Regions from separate parts of the Homo sapiens genome. Here region 1 is linked to region 2. The links come from fine-mapping of genetic effects on gene expression. A gene starts in region 2. The other region holds a variant in brackets. All regions are shown on one strand. Distances are from middle to middle.

Region 1 (15,817 bases), 27 kb after region 2:
TTTTCCCAGGTGATGTTGCTATATCTGCCCACCAACAACACTTTGAATAGCAGAGCTTCAGAGATCATAGGACAGAGCTTCTCAATCCTGACTACACATTAGAATCATCGGGAGTTCTTTTAACAAATATCAATGCCTGGTTTCCAACATCCAGAGGTTCTGATTTAATTAATCTGTGATCTGAGTCTTACACTCAGGTTACTGTCTTTTTTTAAAGTGATTCTAATATGCAGCCCAGGTGGAGAATCATTGCTCTAGTCCATTGCTCTTTAACTTTAATATGTATAGAATAGCCTGAGGATCTTGTTAAAATGCATACCCTGATTCAATAGCTCTGGGCCAGAGCCCAAGATTCTGCATTTTTAAAATGCTTTTAGGTCATACTCAGGCTGCTGGTTAACGGACCACATTTTTGAGTAGGAATGGTCTAATTCGGCATTTCTCAACCTTGACACTATTGACATTTGGGGCCAGATAATTCTTTGTTGTAGAGGGGCTGTTCTGTGCATGCGCTGGCCTCAACCCACCTAGATGCCAGTAGTAACCTCCTACTACCACCACCACATGAGATAACCAAATATGTCTCCAGACATTGTCAGATATCCCCAGGGTGAGGGGTGCAAAATCACTACTATCACCACCAACGTCACCTGCTGTGCTGGCTTGATTCATCCTTCTCATTTTACTGGAAATAGGTCCAAAAAGTCCAGTGTTACAATGTCTCCATCTTTAAAGATCTCAGAACCTCTAGGTATTTGAAAGCTGACAGATTACAAAGCTGACAGCTGCCTTAACAGGGTGTGGTAGATAGAAGAATGCACCCCCCACCCCCAGAGAGATATCTATATCCATGTTCTAATTTCCCAAACCTGTGAATGTGTTACTTTACATGGCAAAAGATGCTTTGCAGATATGACTAAGTAAAGGATCTTGAGATGGGAAAATTATTCTGGATTATCCAGATTGGCCCAAGGGTCCTCATAAGAGGGAGACAGGGTGTCTGAATAAGAGGAAGAGAAGTGACAAAGCAGAGGTCAGAGAACTAGTGATTAGAAGATGCTATGCTGTTAGTTTTGAAGATGGTGGGAGGGGCCACAAGCCGAAGAATGCAGGCAGCTTCTAGGAGCTGAAAAGGTCAGGGAATGGATCCTCCCGTAGAGCCTCCAGAAGAAATACAGCCCTGATGACACATTGGTTATAGCCCAGTGAAACCCATTTCTGTAAGAGAATAAATTTATGTGTTAAGTCAATAAGTATGTGGTAAATTGCCACTGCAGCAATAAATTTACACATAGGGGAATGTGATAAGAAGATAAACGATCTTATGTTGTGGGGAAGCAGAAGTAAGGTTGTACTTGGGTAGAATAGAATATAGGGAATGGGAAGGTGATTAAGGCAACTGAACAGACCCTGAGTTGAAAGGGAGAACTGATAATGCTGTTCAAAATTAAGAGTAATGAATGGAAAATTCCATGGGGACCAAGGCAGGACTAGTCGGAGCAGATGGGCAAGGTGGGAAGATTATGTGGGAGAGCATTGGCTGCATGTGTGGGGCCAGAGAGCATCAGTGTACTGCTTCCATGTTGCGGCCCAACATGCTTGGACAGGGCTTTGTGGTCCTTGGTGTTTGCTGCCTCTTAGAATAATCTGAGAGGAGTGTAAAACTCCTGCAGCTCAGGCTGCACCCGTACCAACAAAGTCAGAATCTCTGGGGACATAGTCATTTTTAAAACTTTGTGTGATTCTAATGTGAAGCCACATTTGAGAACCAGTGCTTAAGAAGGTAAACAGTGAGGGACAGACCAATAAATGCATGAACTCAAATTAACTTGTTTCTAGAATAACGGTTCTTTGGCACTTTTGAGGTGGCTACTTTCTTGCAGGGAGTGATGAAGGTGGGAAACCTGGTACCACCTGATGTAGCTGCAGGTGTTGGAGTGAGGATGAGCCCCAGGTTGTATGTAGTGGTGTCCAACGACAAGGCAGGGGGCCCCTCAGCAGTAGGGCAGGGGAATGGGGAAGAGAAGCTGGGAATATTGGAGGCCAGGGCTGAGAATGAGGCTACTTATCTAAATCTTGTCACCCAGAAAAATGTGAGGAATTCATACATGTGCTGGACTGAGGTCAACATCAAGGAAGAAGGGGGAAAGTCTCCAGAAAGCCATGAACCACCATATCCTTTAGCTGATTAACTTTCACTGGTAGTTCAGGGTGTATCTTAGATATGCCTCTTTCAGGAAGCCTTTTCTAACCCGCAAGCCTGAGTTAGATCCTCCCTTTTGAAGCCTTTTCAAATAGCCTGAACTCTATTCACTAGATGCCAGTAGCACTCCCCAATTTGTGACAACCAAAGATGTCTCCAGACTTTGTCAGGTGTTTCCTGGGGACAAGATCACTACCGGTTGAGAACCACTGGTCTAGAGTAATATAACGTGTGCACATCAGACACGGTCAGTTCTGTAGAGTCAAGTAAGGGTTCCTTCTTGTTGCCTCAGGACCTTATTTTTCTTTCATTCTCTTTCTCCAACTCAGACACTCACTTGGGGGTTGGAAGTTAATGATGTGGCTTCTACAGAAGCAGTGATTATGTCTATGCTGCTTTTTTTTTTTTAAAGTCATATTCTCAGTCCTGTAGAACTGGGACTCTTTCCATGGCTTATTCCATGCAGGGAAAAATGCCTCCTTCCTGAGTGGGAGCCCCTCCCTGAGGTGCACCACAGCTCCTGTAAAATCTTGAGGATGTGGGGAGTAGCTTGGACCCTTCAGAGAGGGTTGGTTTGCTTAGTGGTGGGATGGTTCTGAGGAACCATCTCATAGCTGGTACAAGTGCCAAATAAGAGACTTCTTCTGAATCTCCACACATTAACCCTTTTATTTTGTGCTTGGAAAATATGTGCTGAGCTAACCACACAACAATAGCTCCAGACAGGCCAATGAGTGATGTTTCTCAAGATAGATTTAATCAAATGCTGCACATAATTTGAAGTCTTAAAATGAATTCCTTCTGCTTTCCAGTCTATGGGAGCATGATAAATAAAGCCATGAGAGGAACTCAGAGCGGGTGAATGTATGTCATCCCATAACAATGCTGGGAGAATGTTTGGAAATCCTCCCTTCAGGGTTCAAGTTGGGATGCAGGAAAGGCTGGTTTCTCTCCCTATATCCCTTCCTGAATCTCCCAGAATATCTGCCATGCCTAGAAAAACCTTCTTTAGTTCATTGTGAACAAGAAAGGCAGCTCATCTAAGAAAACATTGCCTCTTCTGTGTTTAGGGTACTCAGCATCTCATTTTTCACTATGCCTCATGATGAAATACTCATTATAATATGAAAGGGGCCACAGTTTGAAAGTAGGAAACATGGAAGGGGCTGGTGGTCCCTAGGAAGGTGATGAAAGTGAGTAAATGTGCACTTGATCCTGTCATCACTGAACATTTATGGGGCTTCCACCATGTTCCAGACTCTGTGCTAAGTACAGGAGATGTAGGTAAAAAAGATAAAGTTTGGAATTACCAGTTGGTGGAAGGAGGCAAAAAAGTAAATAGCTGACTGCCAGCCAGAGTGAGAAGCTTAATGACAAGTAAGGGGTGCTGTGGGAACACATAGGGGTAACCTCAGTGAGATGGGGTCAGGGAGCATGTCCCAAAGGAAGTATCTTATAAGCAGATGAAAGCTATCCAGGTGAAGGACCTGGATGATGGGATGGGTGGGAATGGGAATTTCTGGCTAAGGGCAATTTAGAAGCCCAGAGGGAAGAGAGAAGCCATGAACAGGAAGCAATTTAGTCTGGCTGGAGTAGACAAGGTCAAGTGGGATGTGCATGGCGGAATCCATGTAAGGAAGGTGGCTGTTTCGTTTCATGAAGACCAGGAGCCAGCTTGAGGCCAGGTCCGGGAACACAGATATCCCCACCATTGAAGCCCACCTTAGCCTCTGCAAGAAATCCCCTGGGCTTTCTGCTGGCTCCAAATCCCGGGATCAGAAAGAAGATGCAAATCAGGATCAGTAAGAAGCTAAGAGGCCTACAGTGAGGTTTTGTGTCTTGGCAGGTGGTGGAGTTGAATTTCCTGAACTCTCTGTGTGGGCATAGATGTGTTTAGTCACACTGTGGCTTGAGGGCTGATTTGAACCTACCTCAAGCAGGTGCTCTGTGGGAATAGTTAGGTGGGGGTTGGCAGGATAACTCATTTTATTAAACAAAAAAAAAAGGCCGGGGGGTGGGGCTTCTTCCTATCAAAACAGGGGAAGGAATGAATAAATTATTGATGCTAATTAGAGATAGGCAATGACAAACCTGGAGTTTCTGCCAATCATCAGCATATAAGTGGATAGTGCCAGCCTAAAGGTGCAGACTCAGGATGCCCCACCTTGATGCCAGGTGTCACCAGCTCTTCTCCAGTGTGGCTGAGCCCATGATCTCACTAGGCCCCTGAAGAGATCCCCACTCGGCACTCTAAGGTCAGACTGGGCCACCTTCCTGAGGTGCGCCTGCTCCTGCACAGCTGGGTCTCACACAGGCCTGCTCTCCATTCCTCAGGATCCCACCTGTCATCCACTGCACAGGACTCCTAATAGAATTCCATCAAATTTCAGAGCCAGATGGAGCTTGCGGAGTGTATTATTCAAGTTCTTCATTTAACAGCTGAGGAAACACAATTTACAGCTGAAAGCATTGGTAGAAGCCATTATCTGCTATGCGGGCTGAGTCACAGAGGAAGCCAGGCAGCAGCAAGAGAGGCCATGAAGCAGAGAGATGCTCAGAAAGGAGCAGAGAAGAGCAATTGTGAAAGACGATCCCCAGGTTGCCTGGATCCATTTGCTTTTGTTTTCGTTTTTGCTTTTGTTTTTTGATACAGGGTCTCACTCTGTCACCCAGGCTGGAGTGCAGTGGTGTAATTATAGCTCAATGCAGATTTGACCTCCCAGGTTTAAGCCATCTCCTGCCTCAGCCTTCTGAGTAGCTGGGGCTACATGTGCATGCCATTACACCCAGCTAATTTTGTTTATTTTTTGTAGAGACAGGGTCTCACTATGTTGCCCAGGCTCATCTCAAACTCCTGGGTTCAAGTCATCCTCCCACCTCAGCCTCCCAAAGTGCTGGGATTACAAGGGATCCATTTTTTTTTGAGGTCCAGCTGCATCCTTGACCTCAGGCTCTATCAGACTCCCCTGTACACTATTTACAAATTCCCTTTTTTGCTTAGGAGGTAGCTAAAGTCAGTTGCTGTTACTTGTATACCAGTTACTTAACAGATACAATGAATTAGAATTCAGGCATGTAAAGACACCTGTAAGAGAAAGGGTGGCTCTCAAGCTGAAATTGTGAGCATTGGTGTATTAGTTTCCGTTGGCTGCTGTAAAAAATGACCACAAATGGGGTGGTTAAAAAATGGAAGTTTACTCTTTCACAGTTCTGGAGGCCAGAAGTCTGCAATCCGTATCACCAGGCCTGAATCAGGATGTCAGCAGGGCTGTGCTCCCTTCAGGTCATTCTCCTTTCAGAAGCTGGAGGGGGACCAGCCTGACCAACATGGAGAAACCTCGTGTCTACTAAAAATACAAAATTAGCTGGGCATGGTGGTGCATGCCTGTAATCCCAGCTACTCAGGAGGCTGAGGCAGGAGAATTGCCTGAACCTGGGAGGCAGAAGTTGTGGTGAGCCGAGATCGTGCCATTGCACTCCAGCCTGGGCAACAAGAGAGAAACTCTGTCTCCAAAAAAAAAAAAAAGAAGAAGAAACTCGAGGGGGCAATTTGTTCCTTGCCCCTTCCAGCCTCTGGTGGCTGCTGCCATCCCTTTGCTTGTGACTGTATCACTCTAATCTCTGCCTCTGTGTTCATGCTGCCTTCTCATCTTCTGTCTGTGGCTCTAATAAAAAGGGTTTAATCAAGAAAACATGCCAGGCACAGTGGCTTACACTTGTAATCCTAGCACTTTGGGAGGCTGAGACAGGAGGATTGCTTGAGCCCAGGAATTCAAGATCAGCCTGGGCAACGTGGCAAAACCCGTGCATGGTGGTGCAAACTGTAGTCCCAGCTACACGGGAGGCAGAAGTGGGAGGATTGCTTGAGTCCAGAAGGCAAAGATTGCAGAGAGCCGAGATCACGCCAATTCACTCCAACCTTGGCAACAAGAGAAAGACCCTGTCTCAAAACAAAATAAAACAAAACAAAAGCCACACTAGTTATTTTTTCAGAAATAACTTAAGAAAGTGGTTAAACAGGTATTGGAAGACTGTCCAGGTAAAGTGTGAAAACGTAATTGCAAGAAGCAGCCACCATTCCTAGGGCTAGGGGAAATAAGGGAAGAGGCAGCGTGATCTGGATCTAGAAGCTTAGAAGAGAGGCCCTGCTGAGCTGAAGCCAGGCTGGGGGCTCTTTGTCACTGCTGGTGCCTCTGAACTCAGAGGAGGGACCCACGTAGCTGAAACTCAGATCTCTGAGGAGGGGGGACAGCTGGCTAGTGCTGGTGTCTCCAAGGGAACACTATGAGGTCGGCTCACAAGTATGGAAAAGATGGAAACCAGAACCAGTTTTTATCAACAAGGTGAAGAACTTTCCTAGGCAACACTGGCAACAACAAAAAGCAAAGCAGTCCTGAGAAGCTCCTGCTGCCTTCCAGGCATCTCCCTTATTACAAAGGTACAGATGGTCGTCCTTCAAAAGGTCCCTGCTGGACATCTCTCCTCCAAGCCATTACCAATCACCCTAGAATGTGAGAAAGCTGATTTCTACCATCTGGTATATACCACCACTTTTTAAAATTGCCTCCCCTTCTCTCTTAGAGGGACACTTGTGTTGCATTTAGGACCATATGGATAATCCAGGAT[A/G]ATCTTCCCATTCATCTCAAGGTCTTTGATGTAATCACACCTGCAAAGACCTTTTTTTCGTCCAACAAGGTAACATTCACAGGTTCTAGGATAAGAATGTAGACATATTTTGGGGGGCCATTATTCAGGCTACCGCTATTGAGATATTTAAAAAGCAAAGTTTCAATTAAAAAGTGGGTTAGCTGTTAGTGGAAGAATAAAAAGTTAGAACCAGTAAGTGGGTCAAATAAAAGGCAGTCGGAACTAAAGAACACAAGGATTTGGCTCTCAAGGTTAGTAGATCCGCTTGGAAGAGGTGGGTTCATCAGGTTATCATGGTCCACCAGCCACGATCACTCAGCTAGCATCTCTTGTTCTGATTTCATGAAAATTTCTGATGATTTGGCTGCTTATATAGATTCACTTACAGTGACAGAATATGCTGATCTGTACATCAAAGTATCTAGTTTATTAAATCATTTTATTATTACAAATTTAGAAATCAGAATTCTGGTTTTCTGTTCATTCATTTCTACAAGTTTGAGTGACACATATTAGGATCTGAGATGAGGACTGTCCATCCTACAAGTTCAGAAATATAATTTTCTGGCACGCTAATAGTGAATCCATTCACTGTTGAAGGGGGAAATCAAACTGAGTTTTATTCTCTTGGTCATGATTCCAAATTCCTAATGAAGATGTCTAATGGGCCAAACTCAAACCAATTTCCCATCCTGGAACAATCAACTGTGGCTAGGGAATGATAGGGAATGAGGCCCCTTTGAATGTACTGCTTTTATTTAAGATTTATTTGGGAGGGATGGGCCAGTTTCCTTATAAGTTGGAGAATATGGCAAGCAAATCTGCAGTCTGTGTTATAATTGAACTTTCAGAAAGCATTCGACTTCCAAGTGTCACTCATACCTCTACTAAATCTTCTTCATAATCTTGTATTTGTGTGTGTCTTCAGGACTCATAAAACGGTAACTTAAACTAGTTAACATAAAACGGTCTGTTAACATAAGTTATGTTAACATAAAAAGTTAACATAAAATGGTAACTTAAAACTTAAAAAGCAACTTAAAAAGTTGCTCCTCCTTTCAACATATTCTTCTTGCTTCTATTAAATTAATCTTTTTTTCTTTTTTTTTTTCTTTTTTTTTTTTTTGAGACTGAGTGAGTCTTGCTCTTGCTGCCCAGGCTGGAGTGCAATGACACGATCTCGGCTCACTGCAAGCTCCTTGGGGGGCCTCCCGGGCTCAAGCAATTCTCCTGCTCCAGCCTCCCAAGTAGCTGGGGTTACAGACGCGCGCCACCATCACCACGTCCAGCTAATTTTTGTATTTTTAGTAGAGACAAGGTTTCACCATGTTGGCCAGGCTGGTCTTGAACTCCTGACCTCGTGATCTGCCTGCCTTGGCCTCCCAAAGTGCTGGGAATTACAGGCATGAGCCACTGTGCCTGGCACTAAATTAATCTTTATAAAATACCTTTGATTTATAATATATGATGACTATGACTATGACTTATATACAATCTCTACATTTTCTTTTCTTTTTTTTTTCTGAGACAGAGTCTCGCTCTGTCGCCCAGGCTGGAGTGCAGCGGCATGATCTCGGCTCACTGCAAGCTCCCGGGTTCATGCCATTCTCCTGCCTCAGCCTCCTGAGTAGCTGGGACTACAGGCGCCAGCCACCACACCTGGCTAATTTTGTTTTTGTATTTTTAGTAGAGATAGGGTTTCACCATATTAGCCAGGATGGTCTCCATCTCCTGACCTCATGATCCGCCCGCCTCAGCTTCCCAAAGTGCTGGGATTACAGGCGTGAGCCACCGCACCCAGCCTACCATCTCTATGTTTTCAGTCCTATATATGTATCTCCTGTATTTCATTATTTAATATTTATTCTTTAAATTGATTCACTATATAATCAAGTATATTAATTTAAAAAATAAGTTCTCTATCATAAATGGAAAAAAGATATTATTTTTTTTTTCTTTTGAGATGGGGTCTCACTCTGTCACCCAGGCTGGAGTGTATGCCACCACACCCAGCTACTTTTGTATTTTTAGGAGAGACAGGGTTTCACCATGTTGGCCAGGCTGGTCTCAAACTCCCGACCTCAAATGATCCACCTGCCTTAGCTTCCCAAATTGCTGGGATTACAGGCATGAACCACCATGCCTGGTCCACTTTTTAAAAATAGAAGGTAATCAAACAAATAAATATAGCAGGATGTTAGAATGAGGTTTCCAACCACATTTTTGACTGAGGCTTCAATAAAGTAGGTATATTACCAAAGTTCATGTGAGACAGGCTCCTCACATGTGAATTTACGAAGGAATTTGTGCAGAGCTTGTTCTACGATTTTTGGATATCTTAGCTCAATCAAAGATATTTAAAATAAGTCAGAATGTGAAGAGAGAGGAGGATTTGTGGAAGACCTTTTAGGAGGGACCTGGTGCTATGCTAGAGACCCAAGAGAGGGGGTACTGCCTTCTCCTTAAACGTAGTGCAATAATAAAAACAAACAAACAAAAAAAGAAACCTAGTGCAAGAAGCTTCCTTGGAACTACAAGGAGAGCTATGGAAGGTGCTCTCTGCACTTAGGGGATATAGGACAATGGCTCCTGACTCCCACCCAAGAAAATGTAGAAGTTACTGTGTTAGTCTTGACCTGCCGTCCTAATTGAGTGACCTGGAGGAATTCTTGCTTTCTTCTAGCAAGAAGAAGCCAGAGGGGAATGCTGTTTTTTAGAGGCTTTCAAAGAAGTTATCAATGACCACTTGAACTAGACATCATTAGGTACCCTGCACCATGGAATGATGGAAATCTCCATGAAAGTGCCCAGGCAGGTAGCCACGTTCGACTTTCTGCTTGACCCAGAGAGCTCTCAGCCACTAGCCAGCAAGTACTGTCCTTTGACCTATACCTCTTGTCCCTCCAGCCTGCCCCTTTCTGTCCCTGAGAGAAGTCAAACTTCAGCTAACAAGTGAAGGAGGAAGTGAGTGGGGAGAGCAGAAACCAACCACACTCCCTTTCTGGAAAACAGGCAGCTGTCAAGTAGAAGCCTTGCCTAGGGAACAGGAAGAAAATGGAAGAGCTGACTAATATCTAGGACTTGATATTCAAACTACCAAATTAAGACTGAGTTTGCACATAAAAGTCTGTAAGACTGTCTTTTATCTAAGCATTAGTAAAATATATATACACACACACACACACACACACACACACACACACACACATATATATATATATACACACACACACACATATATACCAGGCTTGCTGGGTTATTTTCCAGTGGTAGAAAGAAAGCTTTCCCCACTGGATAAAGTTTAGAGTTGACACAGGAAACAGAAAACGAAGTTGGATTTTGATTGTGTCACAGTCACACTTGTTCAATGTACTGCTTCTATAAACATGATGAAAACAAAAAAGTTATACTTTTAAAAGGTAAAATTTTTAAAACCATGACAATCAAGTAATAAATATTTATAAGATGCATACAAAAAATAGCTGCATGATTTAAACATGTGAAGAACTCCTTGATCTAGGCTTAAGATTGGCCAGTTGGGTGACTAATGCTGGCATTAAACCTAGATGCTTCCTTAATTCAGGATGAGTGGTGCCCCTGCTTGGTGATGTGATACAGATGGGGCACCTTGGCAGTCCACCGCCATTTGGATGCAATCTTAATATGGGAATGATAGCCCATCTAGACTACCAGGGGTGAAACGATGGGAGCAGTCATTCTTACCATCCCTGCTTCCAGAAAGTCATACTGAGGCTGGGCGCAGTGGCTCACGCCTGTAATCCCAGCACTTTGGGAGGCCAAGGTGGGTGGATCACTTGAGGTCAGGAGTTCAAGACCAGCCTGGCCAACATGGTGAAACCCTGTCTCTACTAAAAATACAAATATTAGCCGGGTGTGGTGGCGGGCGCCTCTAGTCCATTACTTGGGAGGCTGAGGCAGGAGAATTGCTTGAACCTGGGAGTCGGAGGTTGCAGTGAGCTGAGATCGCACCACTGCACTCCAGCTTGGGTGACACAGCGAGACTGTCTCCAAAAAAATAAATAAATAAAAATAAAAGTCATGCTGAAATGTTCAGTATATGAATGTCTGAAACATTCATGACAGAGTCTGTTAATTTATATGGTCTGTGTAACCATGTTTCTACCTACTGTGCCCAATGTATTTTTTCTGTAATATACATTAAAATAATTATTGAGTCAAAAAAAGGTTCAGCAATATGTGTCTGACATCATCGTGCATATTATACTCTCCCAGCATCCTCAGGCCTTGTTTTACCTAGCAGATGCTGTCTCTCACTGAGCTCAGCCCACTGCCTCTTTGGAGGGTAAAGCCTCTATGGTTTTCCATTCTTGTCATGTTCTCTGGGTTCCAATCCTCTGAACAGATTCAAATCTGCTTTTCCTTCAGGATTTCTCTATATCTCCTTGCAGTTTTTTTTTTTTTTTGGAGACAGTCTTGCTCTGTTGCCCAGGCCAGAGTGAAGTGGCATGATGTCGGCTCACTGCAGCCTCCACCTCCCAGATTCAAGCGATTCTCATGCCTCAGCCTCCTGAGTAGCTGGGACCACAGGTGCCCACCACCACGCCTGGCTAATTTTTGTATTTTTGTTAGAGATGGGGTTTCACTATGTTGGCCTGGCTGATCTCAAACTCCTGACCTCAGGTGATCCACCCACCTCGGCCTCCCAAAGTGCTGGGATTATAGGTGTGAGCCACTGCACTTGGCCTCCTTTCAGTTTTATCAATTTTTGCTTTACATAGTTTGCAGCTCTGTTGTTTGGTACAAGCACATGTAGGATTGCTATATGTCATTGGTAGATTGACTCTTTTATTACATAGTATCCTTCTCTGGTAATTTTCTTTGTTCTGAAGTCTACTTTATGAATATTGTTAATATTAAGTCTATGTGATTGATATGACCATTTCTGCTTTCCTTTGATTAATGTTTGCATGGTATATCTTTTTCCATCCTTTTACTTTCAACCTGCCTATATCATTATATTTAAAGCAAGTTTTTTGCACAGAGCATTTAGTTGGATCATGTTTTTAAAACCAATCTACCAATCTCTTTTAGTTAATGCATTTAGACTATTTGCATTTAATGTAATTGTTCATCTGTTAGGGTCTAATTATTTATTTTTATTTACTTATTGTTAATGAACATAAGCTTTATTACATCAAATAATAAATACATATAAATCTGCAAGTAGTTTTAGTCATTTTGAAATATGTTTTGATGAACTTACAGCAAACATAGAACTAAAATCTACATACAATCTTAGTAAAAAATAGTTAAGTTTAGTTGGTTACTCCTTATTCTGTATTTATAACTTGTGCATCTTTAATTTCAAAGCATTGATAGTGATGCAATACTTAAGCAAAAAAGAACTTATAGAGAATGTATACTGTATGGCAAACCAGGGACTGGCTACTAAGTAAAGAGTGCTGTCAGTATTCATCAAAAATAAAATTCATAGAGGTGTATTACTTTATGGAATGGAACAAAAAACAATTTAGGTGCATGAATGTATTCAAAAGAGAAGATTAATGTGCAACACTGGTATCTTGGAGGCAAGCAACAGTTTGCTGTAGGACAAAAAACTTTTACCTGCATCTTTTAAATCAATGCTTTAAAAAATCTGAGTAGCTCTAACTACTTAAAATGCAAATCCTAATCAACTGTAAGATCTTTGCTAGTTTGAGAACCTACTGAGCCACGGGAAAGAAACCAGGAAGAAAAACCAAATGATTACCATTTTGAAAACATGTTTCATCTGGACAGGGGAGATGAACTGTAACTTCCTATCTTGTAAAAAGATGGAATACCTCGCAAAACTATGAAGGTGGTTAGAATCTGGCATTCCATTCTGTTTTAACCAAGCACTCCCAAACTAGTCCTTTAGCATGAGTGATAACTTGTTTTGGTCTCTTCATTGTGCTCTTGCTCCCTGTACAGGTGGATCTGATCACTCCCTCAGCTCTTGGATGATAGCCAGCAGTTTAGCACATTTGCTTTGGGGTCACTTGGCTGTTTCCAGTTCCCTGGGTGTAGCCTAGGGATGGTGGCCTATAGTCACTCAGCAGCTGGTGGTACTGTGAGAATAATACCATATGGGTAGAAGGTGACATGGAAGGTGACAAGCTCTCAGCTGAGTTGAGGGAGGTGGTAGGCATTTTCAAGGTCAAGTTTAGTTTGTATGACATTCTTTCATCTCCATTCCCAGTAGCAGATTTTTATACACACACACACACACACACACACACACACACACACACACAGACACACACACACACAGACTGGTGCTGAAAACTGTGGCTGTCTTCCAGAAGCCCAGAGAATTTTGGGCTTTGGGATTAGAGGCTAAAAACCCTAGATATGATCAAGAGTGATCTGTTCCCTGTTGTGCACACAGCATATCAGGACACTTTGGCTTGTAGCTTCCTAATACACGTTCTTATCCATCTGTCCTCCAGGAAAGATACAATAGGACAGATAGACACACAGATGTACACATGCACACACACACACACTCCAACATATTTGAACAAGGCTAATAGAAAAATGAAATGAATTGAATATAGGAAAGGGTACAAAAATAATTTATTAGAAGGAATGGTGTGGGACAAAGCTAGCATTTATTGATCACCCACTATGTGTCAGATATCCCATTATTTCATTTAATTATTTTCTTTTTTCATGGACAAATAAAAATTGTATACATTTATGGTATAAAACATATTTTGAAGTATGTACATTGTGAAAGGGCTAAGTCAAGCTAATTAACCTACATGTTACCTCATGTACTTATCTTTTATTTGTGGTGAGAACACTTAAAATCTACTCTATTAGCATTTTTCAAGTATACAATACATTGGTCTTAAATTTAGTCACCATGTTGTAAAATAGATCTCAAATCATTTAATTTTTCAAGTTGGTATTATTACTCTCCTTTTACAAATAAGTAAACTGAGGCTCAGGGAGATTAAATAGTTTGTCTAATGTCACGTCTAATAACTGGCAGAGCCCAAATTCAAACTTTAATTTGTTGGATTTGAAAACCTTTGGCTTTGCTGTCTGTCTCTTATGGAAGAAGGTGGAGCTTGGGGGAACTGGCATTAGGAGATTAGGTAATAGAGATGGTTGGTTAAGTCCATGAGGTGGCCACAGAGGATGGATGTGGCTGGATTTCACTGTCTTCCTCCACCCCTCCTATTCTCATAGTTGTGATATACATTGCCTCAGAGTTGCAGCTTTCTTTCTTCCCAGGATGAATTTTAAAAAAAAATTTAATTAACAAAAAATACTTTTAATAACCAAATAGTTATAGGGTACCATGTGATATTTTGATCTATGTTTTATACACATTTGAGAAAGATTAATGAAGCTAATTAATATATCTACCTCACCAACTCATAATTTTTTGTTGGGAGATTAATAGTGAAGAGACAATAAAAGAATAGTTAAAAATCTATTCTTTTAGCAATTTTGAAATATATGATACATTATTATTAACTGTGGTCACCTATCATACAGTGCAATAGGTCACTAAAACTTATCCCTCCAGTCTAACTGAAACTTGGTACTTTTTGGTGATTAACATTGTCCCTTTCCTTATCCCTTCTCCTGCCCCAGCCTCTGATAACCACCTTCTACTCTTTGTTTCTATGAGATTGACTTTTTTTGATTTTCCATATAAGTAAAATCACAGTATTTCGTCTTTCTGTGCCTGGCTCATTTCACTTAACACAAATTCCTCCAGTTCCAGCTATGTTGCTGTGAAGAACAGAAGTTCCTTCTTTTTGAAGGTTGTATAGTATTGCATTGTGTATATATGCCACCATTTCTGTGTCCATTCATCCTTTGATGGACACTTAATTTGAATCCATATCTTGGCTATTGTGAATAATGCTGAAATGAATATGGTAGTGCAGGTATCTCTTAGATACACTAATTTCAAATTTCAATTTCTTTGGAAACAGGATGACTGGATCGTATGGTCATTCTATTTTTAGGTGTTTTTTGTTGTTGTTGTTTGTTTGTTTTTTGTTTTGTTTTGTTTTGAGATGGAATTTCACTGTTGTCGCCCAGGCTGGAATGCAATGGTGCGATCCCAGCTCACTGCAATCTCTGCCTCCTGGGTTCAAGAGATTCTCCTGCCTCAGCCTCCTGAGTAGCTGGGATTACAGGTGCCTGACACCATGCCTGGCTGATTTTTGTATTTTTAGTAGAGACTGAGTTTCACCATGTTGGCCAGCCTGGTCTCAAACTCCTGGCCTCAGGTGATCTGCCTGCCTCAGCCTCCCAAAGTGCTGGAATTACAGGCATGAGCCACTGCTCCCAGCCTTATTTTTAGTTTTCTTGAGGCACCTCCACACTATTTTCCAAAATGGCTGTACTAATTTCCATTCCCAACAACAGTATACAAGGGTTCCCTTTTCTTCACATACTTACCAACCCTTGTAATCATTCAGCTTTTTGATAATAGTCATTTTAACAGATGTAAGGCTATATCTCATTGTGGTTTTAATTTGCATCTCCCTGATAATTAGATATGTCTGAACATTTTTTTCATATATCTGTTGGCCACTTGTATCTTTCTTTGAGAATTGTCTGTTCAGATCTTTTGCCCATTTTAAAACCAAGTTATTTGTTTTCTTGCAATTGAGTTTCTTATATATTTTGGATATTAGCCCCTTATCAGACATATGGTTTGCAAATATTTTCTCCCAGTCCATGGGTTGTCTCTTCACTTAATTGCTGGCTTTGCTGTGCAGAAACTTTTTAGTTTGGTGCAATCCCATTTGTCTATTTTCACTTTGGTTGCCTGTGCTTTTGGAAGGATAAACTTTTATTTCAAGGGAAAATGCTGGACTCAGTTCTGCTCTCATCTTAGATCTGAAGGGAGTTGGCCAGGTCTCCTCTTCTTGAGGGTACATGACTAAGAGAGATGGGAGGGGGCCCACAGCA
Region 2 (15,817 bases):
CAAACCTTCTCCAAGTTCAGTAGGAAAGAATTCTATGATTGATTAGAAATGTCTGTCATGGGTAAGGGAGAGGGTAATGGTAATATGTATGCCACGTCTGTGCCATCTCTGAAAGGCCATTTACCACCCCACCTTTTTCTCCTTAAGCAATCCCTGAAGTCCTGCCCCTTGGATATTTCATCCAGTGCCTTGACATCGTGACGATTCTTGTGATCCCCTCCTTTTTTCGAGAGGAATTTTCCCTTCTCCTAATATGTGGTATTTTATTTAAATAAAAAAGTTAATGTGTTATTTTCTGATAAAATATGAAAATAAAATATGCCAATTAAAAGCTTAGAGAATATAGAAAAGACTAGAGCAAAGAATAAAATGACCCATAAATCCACTACCTACAGATAATTTCTAACACATTTGTTTGTTGTACTTTTCTATAAATTTTTACAGTCGTGAGAATAAAGCTGGGGGGTGTGTGCTTTTTAAATTAAATTATAATCATTTGCCGGCGCTTCAAAATGTTTTTGTAAATGCTTTTGGTGGCACATACAGCTGTTCCATGATTTATTTAACCCTTCTCCTACGGTTGACTATGTAGTCAATGTTAAGTTTTTTGCTGTCATAAATAACATGACTGACATCTTATGTAGAGTCCTTTCAAAAGTAATAATGACCAGGGCAAAGTGGTCTAACAGAATGATTTGAGTTCTTTGTGGAATTCAATATAGATTACAGTGAGCCCTGGAATATCTATCCATCCACAAAACAGTCAAGAAAGCTCCCCAAAGCAGATCTAAAGTTTACTAAAATGGATTAATGTCAATTAAGGCTGTATTTCACTGTGTTTGCTGCACATCCTTGTAGCTAACAAGGAAAGCCATTTATTGTTAACAAGTTAAAATGTTAAAAATAACATCCAAATAGTAAGTCTCATATAGAGAGGATTAATTTATCTTTCATTAATTATTGAAGGTTTGCTGTTGTTAAAACATGGATTAAAAACTTGCTAAATGTTACCTGGGCTAGACACCAAGAGAAGAGACAGATTAAAAGATAGCCATCTTTGGGCAGAGAGTCATGAAATGTACCCTAGATCATCCCTATCCCTCATTTTCTTCATGGTAACTTTTCCTGTATGTAACTTCATGGTAACATACAGGTTCATACCTTTCTGTACTAACTCCCTCAGTCTTGTCGCATGGTGCCTACATGGGCCAGATGTAAAAGTTCATGAAGCTATACATGGAAGATTTGTGCATTTTGCTACCATAAAAGGATCTTACAAAGGAAGGCCCTACATTAATGTAAATTAAAAAAAAAACAGCAATAAGTATAAAGCTACTAGTTACTATGTAGTTATAATAATATAAACTGTAGCTGCCACGATTTAAAGCACCTGGACCCACCACTAGACTGTAAATAATGTGAGGGCAGAGACCATGCCTTGTGCTTCACTGTGACTCTGACCTGAGTACCAGGTGCGCTCAGCTGCAGCAGGGGATAGGCTCGATGAGGACAGTGAAGGGAAGGCCACGCCATTCATGGCATACTCTCAGAGAAAGCACCCCTTGCCAAAATCGCAGGAGTCAGAATAGAGCATCCTAAACAAAAAGTATGCATTTGCCCTCTGAGGACATTAATCATCTGGCTTACAAAGTGAACCTATCTAATGTACTTTTTTTCCCTATTAACTGGTATCATTAAGCTAATAAAATTTATGTCTGTTAGAAACATTCTGCCAGATGTCCAGTTATTTGAAGAGGACTAAGACAAAGAATCCATGACATTTTCAATTCTCATATGTGATCACTGGTAATTTACAGCTCATCCTTTACTTCCTATTCTTGTGGCAGCATGTGTTGCTCTGCCCCACTGACTTCAAAGACTTTCTTTTCGTCTTTGGGGCATTTCCTCTCGGATCATTACATCCACTTCAGCCCATGACCAGATCTTCACCTCATGGTTCCTCTCCAACTTGCTTCTATGAGCCTGGGGATGGAGTCCTGGTTTCTGTCACCCAATCCAGAGACTTCTAGGGGAACTGTAACGTGTCCACCTTCTAAAGCCACTTGCGATGGCCAGGGCCTCCTATGCTGGGTGCTTGCCCTTCTGTTCTGGCTAGTCTGCACAGCCCCTGCTATGTTTTACACCCCAATTTCCAGCAATGGTCTTTAGAACTGCAACAAGTAGCTTATTTGCCAAAGGATAAACAAGCAAGAGATCATTTTAGAGATCTTTTTAGCTTTGTTAATAATACAAGTTGTGGCACCAAGAAGATGCAGTCAGAGATATGGGTTAGATGCAAGGCTTACTTGAGTCTACCATCAGAACAATTCTAAAGAACATAGAGGAGCTCCCAAATATAACCCCTAGTGTACAATGCCGATAATAGGGTACGGTGAGGTTAAGAAACGTGGCCTCAGGACAAAGCCCTCATAATCTTCTAGTATTGCATGTCTAGAGCTAAGTGAAGTACATCTATTTGTAGAATTGCTATTGTTCTCTCTTAGGTAATACACTCAAAGTTCATGGGTCAAGCATGGATCCCTTACTGGAATGAGGATTCTGAACTACAAATCAGTTAACTGTACATGTGACTTATCATAATGAATTTCTAGACCTGGAATGCTGGGAATCATAGTGACAGCAGAGACATCCACCAAGGGAGAGTGGGGGTATGCTTGGGTACTTGCCAGGGCTGTCTTCCTAAAGCAGGCAGTTGGGCCACAGGGTTCTCTCCAGCCTGCCATGTTAGAGTGACAGATATCCACTGACTGAGCTTCAAGGGCACACACACTACCGCCTGTGTTCTTAACATTTTCCCAGGCTCCATACTATGCATCCACCATCAACACTTCTCAATGAACTGTAGTAATTCCCAATGGGAGGGGGATGGGAAAGAGTAGATGAGCAGGCTCACACAGTCCTCTCCCCAGAGAATCTAGAAAAGGGATATCTGTGTAATTATTAGTGCAGGCACTCCCTCTGCTGCTGCCCTCTCTGCCTAGTCCATTCACATGTTAATCTACACACATCTAGAGACATATGCTACACCCAGTACCTTCTTTCAAGCAGACTACAGAGTGCATGGGTGTGTGTGCTCAGGTGGATGTGGCAGAATCTGGAGGGAGGCTGGCTGAAGGTATATGCTGCAGACAGAGTAGTAAGAGAGTGAGCAGGTAAGAAAGAGAAGAAGCAATCAGAAAGCAACCCTGAGGTGCCAAGGAAGTAGGACACCATGGAACACATTCAAAACAATATGACACTTTGCTTAATGAGTTTGTTTCTATTTTTTTAAATACAAGGTTTCACTCTGTTGCTCAGGCTGGAGTGCAGTGGCACCATCACGGCTCACTGCAGCCTCAACCTCCTGGGTTCAAGTGATTTTCCTGCTTCAGCCTCCTGAGTAGCTGGGACCAGAGGCGTGTGTGCTACCATGCCCAGGTAATTTTCTTATTTTTTGTAGAGATATGGTCTCACGATGTTGCCCAGGCTGGTCTCAAATTCCTGGGCTCAAGCAGTCCTCCCGTCTTGGCCTCCCAAAGTGCTGGGATTACAGGCATGAGCCACTGAGCCCAGGCTCCTTTATGACTTTTGTTAATAGCTTTGTGAATCTAACCAAATGGGATTGACATAGACTGGCATTAATACTGATGACAATCACCTTTTCCCAAGTGGAGAGCACCTCTGATTCTGGTTTACTACAGAGGCTCTGGCTTCTTCAAATATCAACATGATTTGTAAAGTGATTAAATTGTTTAAAAATATGCTGAATTAAATATTTATGGTCGCAGAAAAGCAGAAAGCACCAAGAAGCCTCAATTTATTTTCTAAATTTCATTTCTAAAAAGTTCAACAATATTTGTACAATTTTAGCGATTTGAAGTTTACTAAAATAGATTGTCACTAAGGACTGTAAATATCATGATGTGACCATTTTTGCAGACTGTCCTTAGAGTTAACAAGGAAGAAATTTAAACAGCAAGCACCATTAACTACAAGATAAAAGGCTTTTAAAAAATCCAAATTACAATTCCCATAGGGAGAGGGTTAATGTACCTCTTCATCAATTGTTAAAGGTATATTATTATTAAATGGATTAAAAACTTGCCAAATCTTACTTGGCCAGGCACCAGGAGGTTGGAATAATTAAAAGATAATAATCCTTAATAACCTGGAGCCATGAAATGTAACCTAGCTCATACCTACCCCTCACTCTTTTCATTGTAACCATTTCCATACACTGTGAGTTCACAGCCTCTTTTCTCCCCCAACGCACTCTGTTTTCACATCTCAGTACTTCTCTATTTTGCCTTCTTCCCTGTAGTTTGCCTGGGAATTATGTGAGAGCACTGGATGCTCTTCTACCTCCAGCAGGAAATTGCTGCTGGGGGAACTTCCTACCAGGGATAAGTTTTCCCTGTGTGGAAGGGGGTTGGGAGGGGTGTGTGTCTTGCAGGCCGCCTAGAATAGATTCCAGACCTTGGGCCACACAGCCTGGTAAGTCAACCAACAGCCTCCTCACACCTCATATTTGCATTCCAGTTCACTGAGTGATTTCACACACTGGCTGGCAATTCTTGAGCCTGCTGGAAAACCAACCAGGGATTCACCTCATCCATCACTGGTCTGCAACTGCCTTTTGAGGGCCACAGCAGGGGATGGAGAAATGTTTCTTAACCAGGGCTACATCAGCCAGTGAAGGGGGATACGCTCTCAAATGCAAACCCTGGAAAACCAGATGGATAAGAAGCAGACCTGGAGTTCAAGATGGGCTCCAAAGGTAAGAGAGGTAGGTTCAGATCCTGCTTCAGAGCTAACTAGTTGTATGACCCTGGGCAAGTTACCTAATCTCCTTAAACCTGTTTCTTCCTCTGTAAAATCGGGATAATAAAACCTACATTACAGGGTTTGGGAGCTTTAAAAGAAGTAACTGCAGGTAACGTACACAGCCCAGTGTGTGGTAAACAAAAATGTACTTGGTAAATGTTAAACCATTGTGCTTGGAAGTGGTGTGGGTTAATGGTCAAGAGCCTTGGGTCCGGAGCCAGACTGTTTGGGTTCAAATCCCACCCTTAGCATTTAATAGCTGAGAGCATTGGGTAACCTTCGCTGACTCAATTTATCTGTCATTAAAATGGAATTTTATTACAACATAGCAGATATTTAATAAATATTAGCTACTTTTATTTCATTGGCAGTAAAAACAGTTGATTGAGTTTCCACCTCAATCAACAACGTAGTAGTGAATTAAATGAGAATTCAGTACAATGCGTATTTTTTAAAAATTGTGAAGACCTTGTATGCATTTATGACTTTTTTGGGCAGAGTCAAGCTGCGATGCTAAGGGTGTGGTTAAACTGTAATATGAAGGAAAAAATTCAAACAGGGAGCATAAACCACCCACCAGGGAGCTATTTCTTTTGTAATGTGCATTCCATTTCTTCTCCCTCATGCTTTTTAATTCCTTCCATATTTCCTGCCATAATTATCAAATGTTTAGTTTCTGACCTCACTTTCCTGGAGACTGGAGCCCGGGGAATTTAGAATTGTTTATTTTCTGTCCATAAACCTTTGAGTTAATGGAGCGGCTTCTGAGCAAAGAGTTTGTTGGTTTGTTTGTAGTGTCTCAGGAAGGTCGTTAGAGTTGAAAAAATTGGTACAAAAAAACAAGCGCTGAAATGCTTTAACTGGAAACTCGAGCCCCCAAAGAGCAGAGCAATGGATCTTCTCTTACACTTGCGCAACGTTACAGGGAACACTTGGGAAAAGGCCGTTACATTGCCCAGATGATAACACAAAACCCGAGGACACTTCACAAAGAAGAAAATACATTTCAGAGAATCATGATCTCACTTTAAAAGAGAGAAAGGAAAATTAATTTTGCCCCAAAAGAAGAATCCCGATTCCTCTGCCCCCGCCCCCAGGAGACAGACTTGGGAGGGAAAAGTCCCCAACTACTCTCAGTCTCCTCTGAAGTGAAGGACGGAACTGAGGCGCCTTTTTGAACTCGCTGCTGCTCCAGTCGCCGCCTCGTCCCCGTCGGCCCAGCCCGTCCCCTCTCCTCCTCCCCGCTCTCCCTCCATGTTAGCCGCGGCGGGGCTCCCGCTTACGGCCCGAACTACTTTTCCTGCTTTAAAGATTTAAGTTTCGTAAGCAGCATTACTGCCCCAGCTCCACCCCAGCACACCCCAAGGACCGAAACTCCCAGCGCCACCCCGGGAGAGCATCCCCAGGACGCGCGCCCACCCGCCCAGCGCGCAGACCCAAGAGGCCCCGGGGACCGAGTTCGGACTCCTCGGCCCCTCGCCTACCTCGGCGCGGACCCAGGCGACCGCCACCAGCGCGAGCGCGAGCGCGAGCCAGCGTTTCCACATCTGCGGAAGAGAGAAGAGAGCGAGTCTGAAGGCGCCGGGCCCCGCGCTGACCTGGGAAACTTGCTCGGGTCCCGCAGGCTCGCTCCGGCCGCCCAAGCACCCCCGGCCGCCCGAAGAGTCCGGCCTCCGCGCCGTGCGCCCTGCGCTCACCGTGGTCTGGTCCAGGTCTCCTGGGGGCGCGGGGCAGGACGGCGGCAGCGAGCTGTAAGCGGAGGTGGGAGCTCCGCCGATCGCCAGCCTCGGAGGAAATGCGACCTCCCCTCGCCGCCCCTTAAGACCTCTCCTTCCCCGCCTGCCTGCCCCCCCAGCTCCTCCCCATTCTCCTCCCCCTTCTGCTGCAGCGGCCCCCGCGGCTCCCGCTCCCCCTCCTTCCGACCCCTGCTCCGGGGAGCCCGCGGGAGTCCTGGCGCCGCCGAACCCCTCTCTCCGCACGGTCCCTCGTCCGGCGCCCCTTCGGCCCCCTGGACGTGGAGCGGAGGCAGAGGGGGTGTCCCGTGGGTCCCTGCCACAAAGGGGTAGGGGGAAGGGAAACCCCACCCCGGGAGGGGCTGCTGGCTGGCGGCGGCCCGGGCGGGCTGCGGCGGTGGCCAGGTGGGCGGTGCCGTGGGGGGCCCGGGAAGGTCCGGGACTGGAACCTGGAGGAAAAGACGTCCCGCGGCCTAGGAAGCGGAGCCGCCCCCCATGGCTGAAGGGGGAGGCCCAGGGAGGCAGAGGAGACCCCGCATCCCGGGGTCACGGCAGCAGGGCAGCGGGGCACCGGGAAGTGGGCGCAGGGCCGGGAAGACCGGCCGGCGTGGGGAAGGCTGCTGTGGGTTCTACAGTGCATTGTCCCGGGTGAGGTGGCGGCCGCCCTGCTCTGCTGGGAAGATCCTGAGTCCAGCGTTTGCCGGCAGCCTCATCCCCTCCTTCCCTCGGGCCGGGGAGCGGTGTCCCCCTCCTCTCTTCCGCCCACTCACTCATCACCTGTGTCCCTCCTCCCATCCCTGTCATCCCAAGTAGCCTCTGTGTTCAGGATTGCCATCTTCACCACCTTCTTCCCAGCCCTTGGCCTTCGAAAGTGTGCTACCTCTTTGACAGGGTTAACTCCCTAAAATGCTCCTAATTAAGGCGCCTTTCCTGCCATAACTAGTAAGGAGAGCAGATCCACTTAGCAACTCAGATTTCACATGCCCAAGACTAAGCCTCACTTCCCCCAGCTTCAGGGCCTGCTTATCTACCTCTTTCAGGGTGGTTGCCTTCAAACCTATCTCCTTTTCTCAGAGCCGGCTTGTACCCATAGCCTGGCAGTTTAGCCGCTGAGATCTCATATGCATCCCCTCGCCTCCGTTCACATGTCCACTTTCCTAGGCCAGACCTTCATCCTCCCTCACTCAGAAATTCTGGAAACCTCCTTTCGTTGTCCTCTGACTCCAGGCTCTCCCCTGTAGTCTCCACTGCAATCCATTGTCATATTCTTTCCCTTATTTTAAACATTGTCTTCCTCGTGTTCATGTTCTTCCTCTACTCAGAAACTTCAGCGTTCTTCTACCCACATCAAATCCAAACTCTGCCTTTCTTATAAGCCCTGCATTACTGGGCCCACCCTGTCCATCTAACTTCTCTTCAACTACATCAGCATACTTCCTCCGCTCAAAGCAGGCCCATCTCCTCGTTGTCCTCTGAACTTGTCATACTCACTCTGCTGCCAAGGTTTGTTGAGTGCCCACTGTTGTGGCTTTAGGGGGCTTCAAGATAATACCCATGGTCCCCATGTAAGTTCAGAATCCACTGAGATAGCAACAGGAGTCAGACTTATGGAGAGCAAAATGTCAGCTTTGTCTCTGCTAAAGGCTGGAATGGCAGCCATGGCTTTAGATCTGCAGGGACAGCGGGCCCAGAATTGAACATGTCCACTCAGTCACAAGCAGAGCTGGAAAACCTGCCTGTGTAAAAACTAAACTGCATGGAAAAGCAGAAAATATGTGCCTCCTGGGACATGCCTGCTCCCCAAACTTGAGGGGGTAGAGTGACACATCCCCAGTTCTTTCAAACTCTCCAGTCAGACAACTTACTCCTGCTCCCTTGTTATGGTAATAAGATTAGGGAATAGATGTTCCGCACCAGATACTCTGTCTTGGTCACTGTGCAAGGATTGAAGGGAACTATTGTGGATAAAGTTCTGCCCTCGAATAACGCACAATACATTGCATCCCTTGCAGATCCACTGCACCCTCTCAGAATCTGGTATCATCTTTCCTCCCTTCCTCTTATCTACTAAAATGCTTGGGTTTGTTTGTTTGTTTTGTTTTCAGGAACCACGTCAAGTTTGCTTCCTTCATATCTTTTCTGACAACAGCTTGGCATGGTAGAAGGCACAGGAGGTTTGAGGTCAAACCAATCTGGCTTTCCATCCTATCACTGCCATTTACTAGCTGCATGGCCTGACTTGCATCAAATAATAAGCCCTCTGAACCTAGGTTTCTGCCTCTGACAAATGGCAGTGATAATGCCTTGCAGGGAGTTGTGAAATTTAAGCAGATGCATATAAAAAGTGCCTGGCAGGTAGTAGACCTCTGTATGTGATAGCCATTATTATTTCATGATCGGCTTTGCATCTAAATTGTAGTTGGTACTATACACCAGGTACTATGAAAGCCATTCAACATCTCTTATTTTATTTAATTTTCACAATAGATAGAAAGGAGGCTGGGCACGGTGGCCCATGCCTTGTAATCCCAGCACTTTGGGAGGCCAAGGCAGGCGGATCACTTGAGGCCGGGAGTTCGAGACCAGCTTAGCCAACATGATTAAACCCCGTCTCCACTAAAAATACAAAAATTAGATGGGTATGGTGGTGGGCACCTGTGGTGCCAGCTACTTGGGAGGCTGAGGCACCAGAATTGCTTGAACCCGGGAGGCAGAAGTTGCAGTGAGCCGAGATTGTGCCACTGCACTCCTGCCTGGGCAATAGAGAGAGACTCCATCTCAAAAAAATAATAACAATAAAAAATAAAAATTTAAAAAATACAGTAAATGGAAAGGTCTTTTTTATTGCTTCCGTTTTCCAAATAAAACTGAAGCTCAGGAAGATTTAGATACTTTCCCAAGTTTATACTGTTGGCTACACAGCCTTACAACTTGGGGCATTATATTGCAGACTGCTATACAATGTTTAACACTTGTTCTCATAGTTATTCTTGATTCTCCAGCTAGTTTTAAGTTGCTTAGAGCAAAAACAATGTTTTTCATATCTTTATCCTCTCTACATTTGGAACACAATTAATGGATTTGAGTATATCAAAATGAAATGAAAGATTCCTGTTCAACTGAGGGCACCATAGACAAAATGATAGAAGGAGATATAAATGTCTAAAACTGACATGTAACTCATAACACACACACATACACACACCCTGCAAATCAATCAGAAAAAGAAAACCCAATAAAAAAGGGCAATAGGTATGAATAGGCAATTCCCAAAAGGGGAACCCCAAATGGACAATAAATATAGAAAAGATACTCAACATCACTACTATTATTTAAATTGCACAACAACCATTTGAAATCAGTATTATTTTATTATCTCCAATATACAGATGAAGAAACACACACAGAGTTTAAGTAGTTTGTCCAAAGTTATACAGTAAATTATAAATGTCACTTTACACTCATCACAGTGGCAAAAATCAGACAGTTGGACAATATCAGTGTTAGCATGTGACTAGTGCAATCTTTGTGGTGTACTGTAGCAATTAAAAGCATGGGTTTATGAGACAGACTGCCTTGGTACAAAATTGCCTTGGTAGTAAATCTTAGCTTTACTACTTATTATGTAACCTTGGGCAAGTTACTTAACCCCTTGCATCTCAGTTGCCTCATCTGTAAAATCGTGATAATTGTACTGATTTCATAGAGCTATTGTGTAGATTAAATGTATCAATATGTAAAGTACTTAGAATAGTGTCTGGTACACAGTAAGCATATAAATAAGATGTATTACTACGGAAATAATTCACTAGAGAGCTCTTACAGGTACTGATGATAAAACTGTGCTGTGGCGTATGGTTAACTCTACAATAAATAAAGCAAAAGACAAAAATAAACTATGCAGTGGAGAAAATATTTTGAAATGAGATATTTGGAAATGTCTTATCATTAGGCTATTTTGTTATCCAAAACAATAAAAGTGTGGCACCATAAAAACTCTCGTGTATGCACATTTTAAAAACTTACACAAAATTTTCTAACCTGTTTAAAAATCTTCAGACAGAATTCCAGTGGCTTATTTACTCATTTGTTGAAAATATAAAAATATAATAACTTGGGACCAGCATGGTGGCTCACACCTGTAATCCCAGCACTTTTGGAGGCTGAGGTGGGATGATCACTTGAGCCCAGGGGTTCGAGACTAGCCTGGGCAAATGTGGCAAAACCCCGTCTCTATAAAAAATATAAAAATCAGCTGGGTGTTGTGGCATACCCCTGTATTCCCAGTTACGGGGGGAGTAGGGGGCCAAGGTGGGAAGATCACTTGATCCTGGGAGGTGGAGGCTGCAGTGACCCATGATTGCACCACTTTACTCCAACCTCCGTGACAGAGAGAGACCCTGCCTCAAAACAGACAAACAAACAAAAACTAACCAACCAGCCAAACAAACAAAAAACCTTTCAATTAATTTTGATTTCCAGAGCAGATGGGAATTTATGAGCCAAATTTCAACAAAAAAACCTTCGCATGAATGGTTTATAGGACTGGAAAATGAGTAATTTGGTGGGTGAGCCAATGGTACACATCTTCCATCCAGATCTGTAGAGTGTCTTAATGTCACGATATTCAGTACACATTGATTCCTTTCGCATCCAGCTTGCTTTCGCCATGCTTCAGGTAACAATACCCACCTTCGCTCTACAGTACCATTCTTCTTCCACTCCTCAAACATGCAAATGGCCTAGGATAAGTCAGTCACCACATTTCAACCCCTTGACCATAGTGATTACTTTAAGAGTAGGAATTTGACCAAAGTCAGGCCAATACAGCCATATTTGTGGGTGCTTTCATCTTCCAGGGCTGCCATAAAAGTATATCACAGACTGGGTGGCTTAAACAACAGGAACTTATTTTCTCACAGTTCTGGAGGCCAGAATAACAAGACCAAGGTGCCGGCAGCATTGATTTCTTTTGAGATCTCTCTCCTTGGCAGGCAGATGACTGCCTCCTCCCTGTGTCCTCATATGGCTCTTACCTGGTGTCTCTCCCTCTGCTTGCAAAGACATGAGTCCTATCTAATGTGCACTCTACCTTTATGACCTTATTTAACCTTAATTACTTCTTTAAAGGCCATATCTCCGAACAGTCACATTGGGGGTTCGGGCTTCAGCATGAATTTAGAAGGAACTCAGTTCAGCTCATAACACTGAGTTAGCTTTTTCAGCTCTGACAGCTATAATACCAAATATCAAAATAAACTGGGCTTAGAATTGGACCTTCAGCTCTCTGTCACAAAATGTTAAGCAAATATTTTCTTTTTCTTTTCTTTATTGAGACAGGGTCTCACTCTGTTACCCAGGATGGAGTGTAATGGTGTCATCATGGCTCACTGCAACCTCGACATCCTAGGCTCAAGCAATGTTCCTGCCTCAGCCTCCTGGGTAGCTGGAACTACAAGTGCATGCCACCATGCTGGCTAATTTTGTGTATTTTTTGTAGTGACAGGGTGTCCCCATGTTGCTCAGGCTGGTCTCAAACTACTGGGCTCAAGCAATCTGCCTGCCTTGGCCTCCCAAAGTGCTGGGATTACAGATGTGAGCCACCATGCCCAGTCTAGCAAATATATTCTAAATGAAGTAATGACAACACCATCACTAAATGTACTACTATTTTTTTTCAATGAGATCATAAAGGTGTTTTCACCATTGATAAGTAAAATAAAGAATGTTGATTATTTTAGGTCGGGTGCGGTGGCTCACGCTTGTAATCCCAGCACTTTCAGAGCTGAGGCAGGTGGATCACTTGAGGCCAGGAGTTCGAGACTAGCCTGGCCAACATGGTGAAACCTCACCTCTACTACAAATACAGAAAATTAGCTGGGTGTGGTGGTGTGCCCCTGTAATTCCAGCTACTTGGGAGGCTGAGGCACGAGGCAAGGGGCAGAGGTTGCAGTGAGCTGAGATCATGCCACTGCACTCCAGCAGGGGCAACAGAGACTCCATCTCAAAAAAAAAAAAAAAAAAAAGCATGTTGATTATTTTATCTTTAACTCATTTCATATTTTACATGTTTTATAATGTATATATTAGCCTCACTGTTATTGGTGGTAGTATGTAACTGCAAAGTTTGCAAACTATGGCTACAGAAAATCGAATCTCACACTGAGGCCAAAAGAACACTTCAAGAGTTGAGTACAGTGTTTATTATGGTTAATTAATCATGTTCAGGGTGACATTTGTGTAATCATTGAGAGCATCTGTGACAAGATGGTTTCATCAGCAACTTGGGGAAATAAAGTACTTATTAAATATTTGTGTTTATTGACATATCCAAAGTAATGCATAATTTGAATGTATGCCTATTTTGCCCTGTCTAAAGGTACTAAACTCACATGATCTCCTTCAAATTAATTTGGAAAATTCTGCAAGTTGGTAGTATACGTTTTTGTATTATATTTATAAAAGTATGATTTATGATAATCCATCTATTCATTATAAGCTTGGCAGACCTATTCATTTGGATAAATAAATGGATTTTTTTTTTCTTTTTGAGACGGAGTCTTGCTCTGTCACCCAGGCTAGAGTGCAGTGGTGCCATCTCGGCTCACTGCAAGCTCCGCCTCCTGGGTTCATGCCATTCTCCTGCCTCAGCCTACCAAGTAACTGGGACTACAGGTGCCTGCCACCATGCCTGGCTAATTTTTTTGTATTTTTAGTAGAGACAGGGTTTCACCATGTTAGCCAGGATGGTCTCGATCTCCTGACCTTGTGATCCATCCGCCTCAGCCTCCCAAAGAATAAATGGATTTTATAAAAATTTTAATGTCATAATATTCAGTACACACTGATTCCTTTCACACCCAGCATGCTTTCCCCACACTTCAGGTAACAGCATCCACCTTCCCTCTAGAGTATCATTCTTCTTCCACTTTTCAACCATGCAAATGGCCTAGGATAAGCCAATCACTACATTTCATCCTCTTGACCATAGTGATTACTTTGAATAGGAATTCAACAGAAGTCAGACCAGTAGAGTGAATGAAATCCAATTCCAAGACTTGTTTACTCATTAGGGAGGCTGACTCTCTTTTCTGCTGGCCTGGGTACTGGATAGTGTGACTCTGAAGCTGCAGGGGGCCACCACCTGGGCCTGAGATACTGCCAATCCTGAAGAGGCAGCACCAGGAGATGGAGTCCAGTGACATCATCAGGGCCTCAAATCAAGCTGTACCTGATATAGCTCTAGACTTTTAGGTTTGTTACCTGCTTCTTTTTGCTCAAGCCTCTTAGGTTGGGTCTTTTAAATCACATTTGAAAAAAACCTTAAATGATCATCAAGTCGTAAATATAATTACAGGGTGTTTAAAACAATAAGATAGCATAAACAAATGCAATAGTCCTTTAAGCTTAATATTTGCAAAGATTATGAAACAGCAGAGCTGGGAAAGGGAAGTGATTTTCCCAAACACTCATGAAAGAGCAAATGTTCTGTCTACTGCACCTTGCTACTTCCTCCACTGCCCAGCCTGCTGCAGACATGGGGATGTGTGTTATTTAAGACACCCTTAAAACAAGTGACTGAACCAATTCATGCTAGCCTGGGCCAGGAAGGAACTTACTGGCTGATGAGGAGTCTACTGAGGTGGCTCATGGGGCTGAAGGAAGAACTGCAGAATCTAAGGTCTTGGGGACTCAAATGGGACTTGTGATAGACTAAAAAGCATACCCCTACCAAAATAGAGTCACTTCCTGGAACTTGTAAGTGTTATCTAATGTGGCAAAAGAGCAAATATTATCTTATATGGCAAATATGTGATTAACTTAAGGATCTTGTGAGGAGGGATTTATTCTGGATTATCTGGGTGGGCTGTAAATGCAATGATATGCATTCTTATAAAAGAGAGGCAGAGCAAGATTAGACACAGACAGGAGAGAAAAGATACACAGAAAAGAAGGTGATGTGAGGATGGAGTGATGTGGCCACAAGCTAAGGGATGCCAGGAACTGCTGGCAGCCACTAGAAGCTGGAAGATTCAGGAACAGATTCTCCCCAGACTCTACTGAGGGAGTGCTGCCCTGCTGATCCTTGATTTCAGGCTTCTGGCCTCCAGAGCTGTGAGAAAATAAATTTCTGTTGTTTAAATTACCAGAGTTGTGGTAGCACTAACAAACTAATGCAGAACTCAATGATGTAAGTTTCTCTCTCTCTCTGTCTCTTTCACACACACACACACACACACACACACACACACACACACACACACCCAGACTCTCAGCTTATTCAGCTGTTTTAGTTTTTCCATGTGGCTGAGAAGATAGCTGGTGCAAGCCCTAAAATGCCATCCTTTCAGCCTTGGCAGCCTAGCCAGAAGAGTCTGTTCTCCTGGTCCATAGATCCAACTCAGGGGAGGGTTCTGGTTGGCCCTGCTTGTGTCATGTGCCCACCCCTTGGACAAAGCACACTGTCAAGGGGGCATTCCTGTGGTTGGCTGCGTTTGGGTCATGATACCATCCCTATAGCAGGCTGCACACTCTTACTGATAGCTTCACAAACCACATGGCACGGAGGAAGAGGTTTCTCCAAAGAAGGGACCCTGGGCAGACTAAAACAACCACTGTCCAGGTTCTTGGCTCTTTCCCGGCTTGGGACATCATGAAGACATGTAGGATTGTGGACAGAAGAACCACAGACTTGTTCCTGAGCACAGGGCATTGGATATTCCAGACAGGGCTAAACAACTGCCTTTAGAATTTATGAGGAGACTAGAAAGGCTGCTTGTTTGATCAAAATGATGGGCCCACCCCACTGTAAGCTACAGTTAGAGTAAGCCTGGTGGGCCGGATGAGGGGATGGCCTCAGGGGCAGCATGAAGTATACCCGGTGGCATTAGGTTATGGGTGGGGTTGAGCACTTTTCAGAGGACCCCTGGGGATGGGAATTTTTCACGGCCAGAGGCTCAAAGCTGAAGCGAGTTTTTGCCTCATTCTCTGACCATTTCTTTTCCTTCTCTTTCCCTCCTTGTAGTCCGTTTCCTTCCTATACCTTCTTTCTTTCTTCTCTCCCACTCCCACCCTTGGGAGAAGAAGCAGGATGCTAAAGCACTAGCTGTAGGCTTTACAGGAAGCAGTTCATGCTTCCTCCTCCCCCCGAAAAGAAAATGCCTTCCCTTGACTAGTTTTGGTGGACCATTCTATTATCAGCATAATCACTGACATTTATCATAAAACCTCATGGACTGAGATTCTCTCAGGGTCTGGGC

The links. PIP is the estimated chance that this variant, and not a neighbour inherited with it, causes the effect.
Region 1: its variant is fine-mapped to the expression of FSTL1 in whole blood (TOPMed, PIP above 0.99).

Annotation. Positions count from the first base shown.
Region 1 is chr3:120,471,475-120,487,291 of GRCh38, forward strand. LOC107986121 (a long non-coding RNA gene) reads left to right here and starts at 15,679. Exons shown (of 3, transcript XR_001740868.2): 1 at 15,679-15,817. It also overlaps the pseudogene CDK2AP1P1. The variant A/G (reference allele first, on the strand shown) is at 6,830.
Region 2 is chr3:120,444,376-120,460,192 of GRCh38, forward strand. FSTL1 (follistatin like 1) reads right to left here and starts at 6,617. Exons shown (of 11, transcript NM_007085.5): 1 at 6,522-6,617; 2 at 6,309-6,371. The coding sequence starts at 6,371. It overlaps LOC124900546 (a long non-coding RNA gene), which reads right to left and starts at 6,279. Exons shown (of 2, transcript XR_007096030.1): 1 at 1-6,279.